2 linked regions of the Homo sapiens genome follow. The protein of the gene in region 1 purifies or fractionates together with the protein of each later gene. This does not show direct contact. Each region holds a gene or a part of one and is shown in the gene's direction. Other genes may lie near its edges. The genes, in order: DYM and HHIPL1.

Region 1 (3,816 bases):
AGAGCCAGGCCTAGGCCTTTTCCCAGACTCCATGAGGAGCAGCCTCGGGCTCCCTCTCCGCAAAGCCAAAGCCATTGCTCCTGCCTCCAGGGAGGAAGAGACTGAGGCCAAGCTATGGCCAAGAAAGCTGGCCACCCCAGACCCCCGCTCCTCCAGAGTAGCCCCCCTCCACCGGTGGCACATGCCTACCCCTTCAGGTCAGGGCTCAGGATTGTGAAGGGGAAGGTCCTCACCTCCAGAATGGTGGAACCCTGAGGACAGTGCCTCTCAAAAGCCAGTCCCTAGCATTGCACTCTGGGGAATATCAGCCTGAGCCTTGTCTGCCTCCCAGGCAGGGTCCATGTCTCAGCTAGGATATTTCTCATCATACCTTAACCACTGTTGGGGTCCCTAGCAGGGAACTATCAGCCAAACTGACATTAGCCAACCAGGACCCATTGTGTTACTTGCTCTCTCCATCGGTAATTCACATTTTCTCAGGAGCCATTTGATAGCTGAAATATTTTAAAGCCCCAGAGCTTTCATGCCCTGTGACCAGTTGGCAGGGGTGGGTGGGCTCCCCGCACACCACAGCACCACCTGCAAACTCTCACCACTTTTGCTTGTGCATGGAACTGTGGGATTATAAAATCATCTTATTTTCATTGCAGAAATTTCCAGAATTGAAATTCAAATATGTGGAAGAGGAGCAGCCCGAGGAGTTTTTTATCCCCTATGTCTGGTCTCTTGTCTACAACTCAGCAGTCGGCCTGTACTGGAATCCACAGGACATCCAGCTGTTCACCATGGATTCCGACTGAGGGCAGGATGCTCTCCCACCCGGACCCCTCCAGCCAAGCAGCCCTTCAAGTTCTTTTATTTCTGGGTAACAGAAGTAGACAGACAGGTTACTTGGTGTATCTTCTGTTAAAGAGGATTGCACGAGTGTGTTTTCCTCACACACTTTGATTTGGAGAATTGGTGCTAGTTGGCAATAGATAACTCAGCGTAGATAGTATTGCAAAAAGGGGAGGAAATACACAACAATAATAAATGTAAAAACCTGCTATTCAACATGCAGTTTTATTTCGAAGCCAAAAATCTAGAGCTTTCCCAAGATCCTGTTGCCTTAGGCACATCACACTTCAACAGTGCACACTATCCAACAGTGCACACTATTCAACAGTGCACACTATTCAAAAGCGTAGACTATTTTTTTGCATGTTCAAGATATTTGTTTTGGTCTTATGTGTGTGTGAGAGAGAGAGATTCCTTTGACATTAAGGAGCATCAATGAGAAAAGATGATGAGGCAGGAATTAATAAAGAAATGAAGTCGTGTGTGTTTGGTTGCCTGTCAGAGGGCACACAATTTCATAAACACCATGCCTGGACAATTTGATATTAATATTTAACACCTCTGCATCTTTTCTTAAAAAAGAATATGGGCCAGATACAGTGGCTCACATTTGTAATCCCAGCACTTTGGGGAGCCAAGTTAGCAGAATCCCTTGAGCACAGGAATCTGAAACCAGCTTGGGCAACATAGTGAGATCCCATCTCTACAAAAAACTTAAAAATTAGCCAGGCATGATGGCACATTCCTGTAGTCCTAGCTACTCAGGAGGCTAAGGTAGGAGGATTGCCTGAGCCCAGGAGTTCAAGGCTGCAGTGAGCTAAGAACGTGCCAGTACACTCCAGCCTGAGCCACAAAGTGAGACCCTGTCTCGCAAAAAAAAAAAAAGAAAGAAAAGAAAAAGAAAATGGCTACTTCTCATGAAGCCCAGATTAACTTTTCTGTGAATATGGCCTGTGAACTGTTGCTGGAATTAAATTGGAGTCTAGCACAAATTAAGTTAATCTACTCTGTATTAATCATTGGGAAAAAGAAAAGCTTCATTTGAAAACAGTCTTTTTCCTTCACCCACACTAATAGAAAAAGGAGAGTAATTTGTTCATACTGTATTCCACGTGGGATGAAAAGCATGTTTTGCTCTTTGTTTCTGGGCCGGTGTGATCCGTGTGTTGGTGCCTGAGCTGGAGGAAGGAGCTTCTTGCAGGGAAACAGCCACTGGGGCCACATTGAGGGCCAGTTGGGACCTTCCTTTCCAGTCACACTCTGTGTCCTCACGGGCCCCTTCACAGTCTAGATAAGGAGCCTAGTTTCATTCTCAAAGAAAAAGTATTTGGTCTTCAACATAGAAAGCACAAAAGCCCAGACGAGACTGAGCACACTGTTCGAATCCACTGCCAGCTCATCTGTGTCAGGGCTGGCTTCTCCTGTCCTGTGTCCCAGGGCTGCAGGCCCGTGTTATTTGAGTCCATCAAATCTTCCGAGGGCCTCGGAGGAACCATTCTCAGTCACCCCAAGCTCTGTAAAAGGTCAAAACACTGGCAGCCTCTCAGTGCACCACTGTGTGGGCTCCACACGGGAAGGCCTGGCCAAGCTGTGCTCTTAGAGGCTGTCGAGGTAGGGCAGGAAGCTTCCCTATCCTCGTCTGGATGGAATGAAACAGAGGTTCCCTAAGGCCAAGGGACTCGTGGAGCGCCCATCCCGGGTGGGGTCCCAGAGGTGAGTGCAGCTTGCCTCCTGTCCCCAAGGGGCTTGTTCTGTCAGGCCTCCTCCAGTCACTGCTGGAGTGGGGACTCTGACTCCTGTGTTCACCTCAGAGCCCATGTACAGGCTAGAGGTGAGGCTTGGCAACAACTTCTACTAATACTTAGCTTTGTGGCAGAGCCAGTCTGAAGGAGGAGAAGCGCTCTCAGCCAGCAGGGGGAGTGATGATTATCATTTCAGGTAGCAAGGATATGTATTTACTATGTGGGGAAATAATTTGCAACTTTAATTTGTTTCCAAAGCATTTTGATTGGCTTCCTTTTCCTTTAAACCAAAAAATTGTTTAAATGTTTAAGGGTCATGTGGAACAGCTGAGCTTCTGGCAGGACCACAGAACTGTCCTCTGAGTCTGAGGGCTGGGCAGTGCCACAGGACAGTCCCTGGGCTGCAGGACTGTCAGTGCTTGTTGTGTGAGGAAATGAGGCCCTTCAAAAACCCAGTCATCTTGACAGAGGGCACACTCCCAAGGAAGGCCTGACTGGGGAATCATACAGCCTCTCCTCCAGGCCTCTGGGCTCACTGAGGTGCCCCCAGAACCCTGATTGCCCTCCCCTCTTTCCCTTTTCTCATTCATCACACAGTAGAAGCACTCACTAGCTAACAGCTCAGCTGGGGCAGCAGCCTCCATGGAGGCCTGCAAGTGATGCTCCCAGTCCTGGTTCCCGCTCAGGAGGGAGGCCCCACCACGTGCATCACTGCCTCAGCTCTGCAAAGTCACCAGAGGCTTCTTCCTGATTTTTGTGAAAGATTTATTATATGGCAATAAATCTGAATGATAAACTTTCATTATACTTGCATTAATTTTGAGTATTAGTTTGCTTAGAAATTTTTACACGAAGTAAAAATGTGTAATGATGCAACACAGGATCATCGTGTGTTCAGATGGAAATTGGCATCTGATTTTACCCCAGATCTGAAGCTGTTACTGCATTGTGTCATTTTATCAACAAAGACTTCTGCCACAATATTTACTTTTAAAAGAATTTGTCCCTTTCAATAGCATCTTCCCTATCAAGAGTTCAAGGCACTTTGCAGAAGAGCTTCAGATTTCTAACTCTAGTTCCCACAGTCACCCGTTGAGGCTGGTGTCATACAATCTATGAACAACAACCTTGCAGCAGGACTGCCACCATTCAGCAGTGCAGACAACACAGCTCAAGGACAAAGACAGAGAAAGGAAAGAAGAGAAGGTCCCTGAAGGTGAAGCATAGAAAGTACACT
Region 2 (3,816 bases), on another chromosome or scaffold:
CATGGTTTCTGATGGAGATCTCCATGAAATGTATTCTATGGGCTCATGTATTCAGCAGGCTCTTCCTGAGCCTGTTAGGAGGCAGCCCTGTGCTGGATGCTGGGCCCAAAAACAGTTGGCAAGTCACAGGCCCAGTCTCAAAAATCCCCTTCATCACTTCAGGAGACTGACACACACAGGAAGGTGCCAGAAATTCCTCAAGGAGTGTAGGAACAAGGCCACATACCTCAGGGAAGGCTTCCTGAATGTTGGTTGCATGTTGATAGCTCATTATTTACTGAACAAACACATACATCTTCTCCATTTGTTCCTCCCAACAACTCTATGAGGTTGGAATTCCTTTCCCCTTCCACAGATGAGGACATAGGCACAGAGAGGTTAAGGAGCTTGCCCACGGTTAAGAGCAGTAAGAGGTTAAGGAGCATTCCCCATGGGGAATGTGTGCGCTGGCTCCAAAGCCATTCTCCTAACCGCTTTGCCACACTGCCTCCCTCCTTGAAGCCCCACTGTGTCCCACAGTCCGTGGAGTGGACAGACATGCAAAGAGATAATGAAGTCCTAGCCAAGCTGACTGGCTGGAGCGCCCCTGGCGACGGAGCAGTGACTGCTGTAGAGAACTCACCCTGTAAGCTACAAGATTCAATGGAGTGAGTGTCGTGTCTGAGATATGGACAGAGTGCATTGGGAGCATCCATAAGGGCCAGGGATGGGACAGTCAGAGCCCTGGGAGCATGGAGGACAAGAGGAGACCTTTGAGTAGGCCTTGAGTCATGAATAGCAGTTTGCCAGATGAGGAAGTAGGTGAGAAGCAAATATCCGATGGACAGGACACTGTGCAAAGGCTTGCTCTTTCAAAAAATGAACGGTGGACATAAGAAACCTTCAGGACCCAGGGCCATGAGTCACGAGTGTCAGTGACATGGGGGTGGCAAACTCTGGGCAAGATGGGGGCCCTCCGCCCTGCACTGAATGGCCCGGGCGGCTGAAGCCTGCGATACTGGGCTGGTTTCCTATGGCCTTCCTGCCACCTGCCCCTAAACACACTGAGGCCAAGCTGCGGATCATCCTCTTGCCAGCAGCAATCACTATGTCTTCTTGTCACTTCCTAGCTCTGGACTACCCTGGTCTGGGCACCACATTTACGTCGTGTGTAAGTAAGAGTACATAGGCCACGAGGAAGCATCTGCTGTGTGATTGGGACGCACGGATGCCGAGGTCTTCGGCCTGGCTCCCTGAGGGAACTTTTGCTCCCTCTGTAGTTCTGGATTGGGCTTTGGTGAACGGAGGGCTCTCGTTGCCTTCCAGATGTCTGTTCTGCCCCTCACTGCGTCTCTGGAACCAAGATGGTGCCTGGTACAATCTCTGCTCAGTAAATTCTTGGTGAATGAAATGTTGCTGACTAATCTGGAAAGAACACCAGTCCAGGCATCATGAGGCTTGGGTGTGAGCCCTGGTTTGGCTACTTCTTGGCACGTGGCCTTCTTTAAGTCTCAGTTCCTCATCTATAAAATAGGAGTCAAGCCGTGTACGGTGGCTCATGCCTATAATCCCAGAACTTTGGCGGGCCAAGGCGGGAGGATTGCTTGAGCCCAGGAGTTCAAGACAAGCCTGGGAAGCATAGAGAGACCCTGTCTCTGCAAAAAATAAAAATGAAAATTAGCCGGGTGTGGTAGAGCACGTCTGTGGTTCCAGCTACTCTGGAGGCTGAGGTGGGGAGGATCGTTAGAGCCCAGGAGGTCAAGGCTACAGTGAGCTAGGATTGTGCCACTGCACTCTAGCCTGGATGACAGAGAGAGTCCCTGTCTCAAAAAATAAACAAATAAAATAAAATAGTGACAATGACCCTACCTTGCAGAGATGAAAGAAGGCACGTGTGCACACAGCCCCTCCCTGGTCCACGTGCAGCTGCCGGCTGACCCACAGGTGGTTCCCAGTGAACCATGGGAGGGACAGCACACACGGCGGCCTGAGGCCTGGCCATCTGGCCTGCTCACTGGCAGAGGGGAGCATGTAAGACATGGCACCCTGGTCTGTACCTGGGACAGTAACTGACCAGGACCCCAAGACATTCTGCCAAGTGGCCCTTGGCCAGTCAGGTGAGACCTAGCCTCACAGCAGTAGAGGGGCCAGGAGGACATGCTGTGGTATGACCAAAAGCCACAATCATGTCACAGGAGTGAGTGGGCCCTGGCCTGGGGCTTGAGAACACCCCGGGAGGCAGCCTGCCATCCCCCATCCCCAATCCTCCCCCAAACGTCCCAGAGGCCTCTTGCTGGAACCCAGCCTGGTCCTCCCTGTGAGGGGAGGGAGTGTGTGGCTGTCAGTACCTCCCCACTGCAGAAGGAGCATCCCCCGAAGCTCTGGGGGCCCAGAGCTGACTCAGACCCAGGCTTGGCCTGGTGGACTCACAGGTGGGGGAGGGTGTCAGTCACAGATAGAAAGAATGACCACGCCACAGGCCGGCGGCTCTAACAGGGAGGCCCGCAGACAGCCTGGAGCTGTAGGGGTAGGGTGCAGGGAGGGTGCTGTGGTGTGGGGACACTTAACTGGCGTTGGGGATGGGTAGTTGGGAGCTGGCCAGTAGAGCTGAGCAGACGTGGCTCAAACCCCAGCCCACTGGCATGTGACATGATACTTTGGGCTCCCTTCTGCTGTCTCTGCTTCCACCTCTGTGCAGTGGTAATAAGAACAGGCCTCCCTCCCATGGTTGCCTTGAGGAGGAAATGCAGATTCATGGGCACACTGCCCTGGTGCCTGGTCCACAATTTGCCCCAAACCCCAGGAGCTGCTGTGATTGGTTAGCATGGCTTCCCCCACGGCCATGGCCATGATTTAAGAATAAAGAGAATTCTGCCTGCCAGAGAAGAGCAGGGAAAGGGCATGCCTGCAAAGGGAACAGCCTGTGCTGAGGCTCAGAGGTGTGAAATGGCAGGGAGTATGTATTAGTCTCTTCTCTCATCGCTATAAAGAAATACCTGGCTGGGTGCAGTTGCTCACGCCTGTAATCTCAGCACTATGGGAGGCTGAAGCGGGAAGATGGCTTGAGCTCAGGAGTTCGAGAGCATCCTGGGCAACATGGCAAAACCCCATCTCTACAAAAAATACAAAAATTAGCTAGGCGTGGTGGCTCTCGCCTGTAGTCCCAGCTACTCAGGAGGCTGAGGCAGGAGCATCTCTTGAGCCCAGGAGGCAGACATTGCAGTGAGCTGAGATGGTGCCACTGTATTCCAGCCTTGGTGACAGAGAGAAAGAGAGACCCTGTCTCAAAAAAACTAACGGACAAACACAAAACAAAACAAAACAAAACTGGGTAATTTATAAAGAAAAGAGGTTTAATGGGCTCACAGTTCTGCAGGATGTATAGGAAGGATAGTGGCCTCTGTTTCTGGGGCGTTCTCAGGAAACTTACAATCATGGTGGAAAGTAAAGGGGAGGCGGCATGTCTCATGACGACAGCAGCAGCAAGAGAGAGATGGTGTGGGGGCACACTTTAAAACAACCAAATCTAATGAGAACTCACTCGCTCTACAGTACCAAGGGGAGATGGTACTAAACTAAACCATGCGTGAGAACTCCGCCCCGTGATCCAGTCACCTCCCACCAGGCTCCTCCTCCAACACTGGGGGTTACAATTCTACACGAGATTTGGGTAGGGACACAGATCCAAGCCATATCAGAGTATCAGGAGATGGAAGGTAGACAGGAGGCTGGAGAGGTGGGGAGAGGCAGGAGCTGATGATGGAGCTGTCCATGGGCAGAGCCAAGTTAGAGAGCACTTCGTGTTTTACTGTTTTTCAACAGATAGAGGCCGGAAGG

The links.
Region 2: the proteins of DYM (region 1) and HHIPL1 purify together in Homo sapiens (affinity purification with mass spectrometry; one large-scale study listed by BioGRID and IntAct). This does not show direct contact.

The regions. Positions count from the first base shown.
Region 1 is NC_000018.10:49,041,039-49,044,854, reverse strand, and holds part of DYM (dymeclin), read left to right. Parts: intron 1-650; coding exon 651-800; coding exon of another isoform or gene 801-910; 3' UTR 911-3,816. UniProt on the Homo sapiens protein: Necessary for correct organization of Golgi apparatus. Involved in bone development.
Region 2 is NC_000014.9:99,647,990-99,651,805, forward strand, and holds part of HHIPL1 (HHIP-like protein 1 isoform a precursor), read left to right. Parts: intron 1-3,816.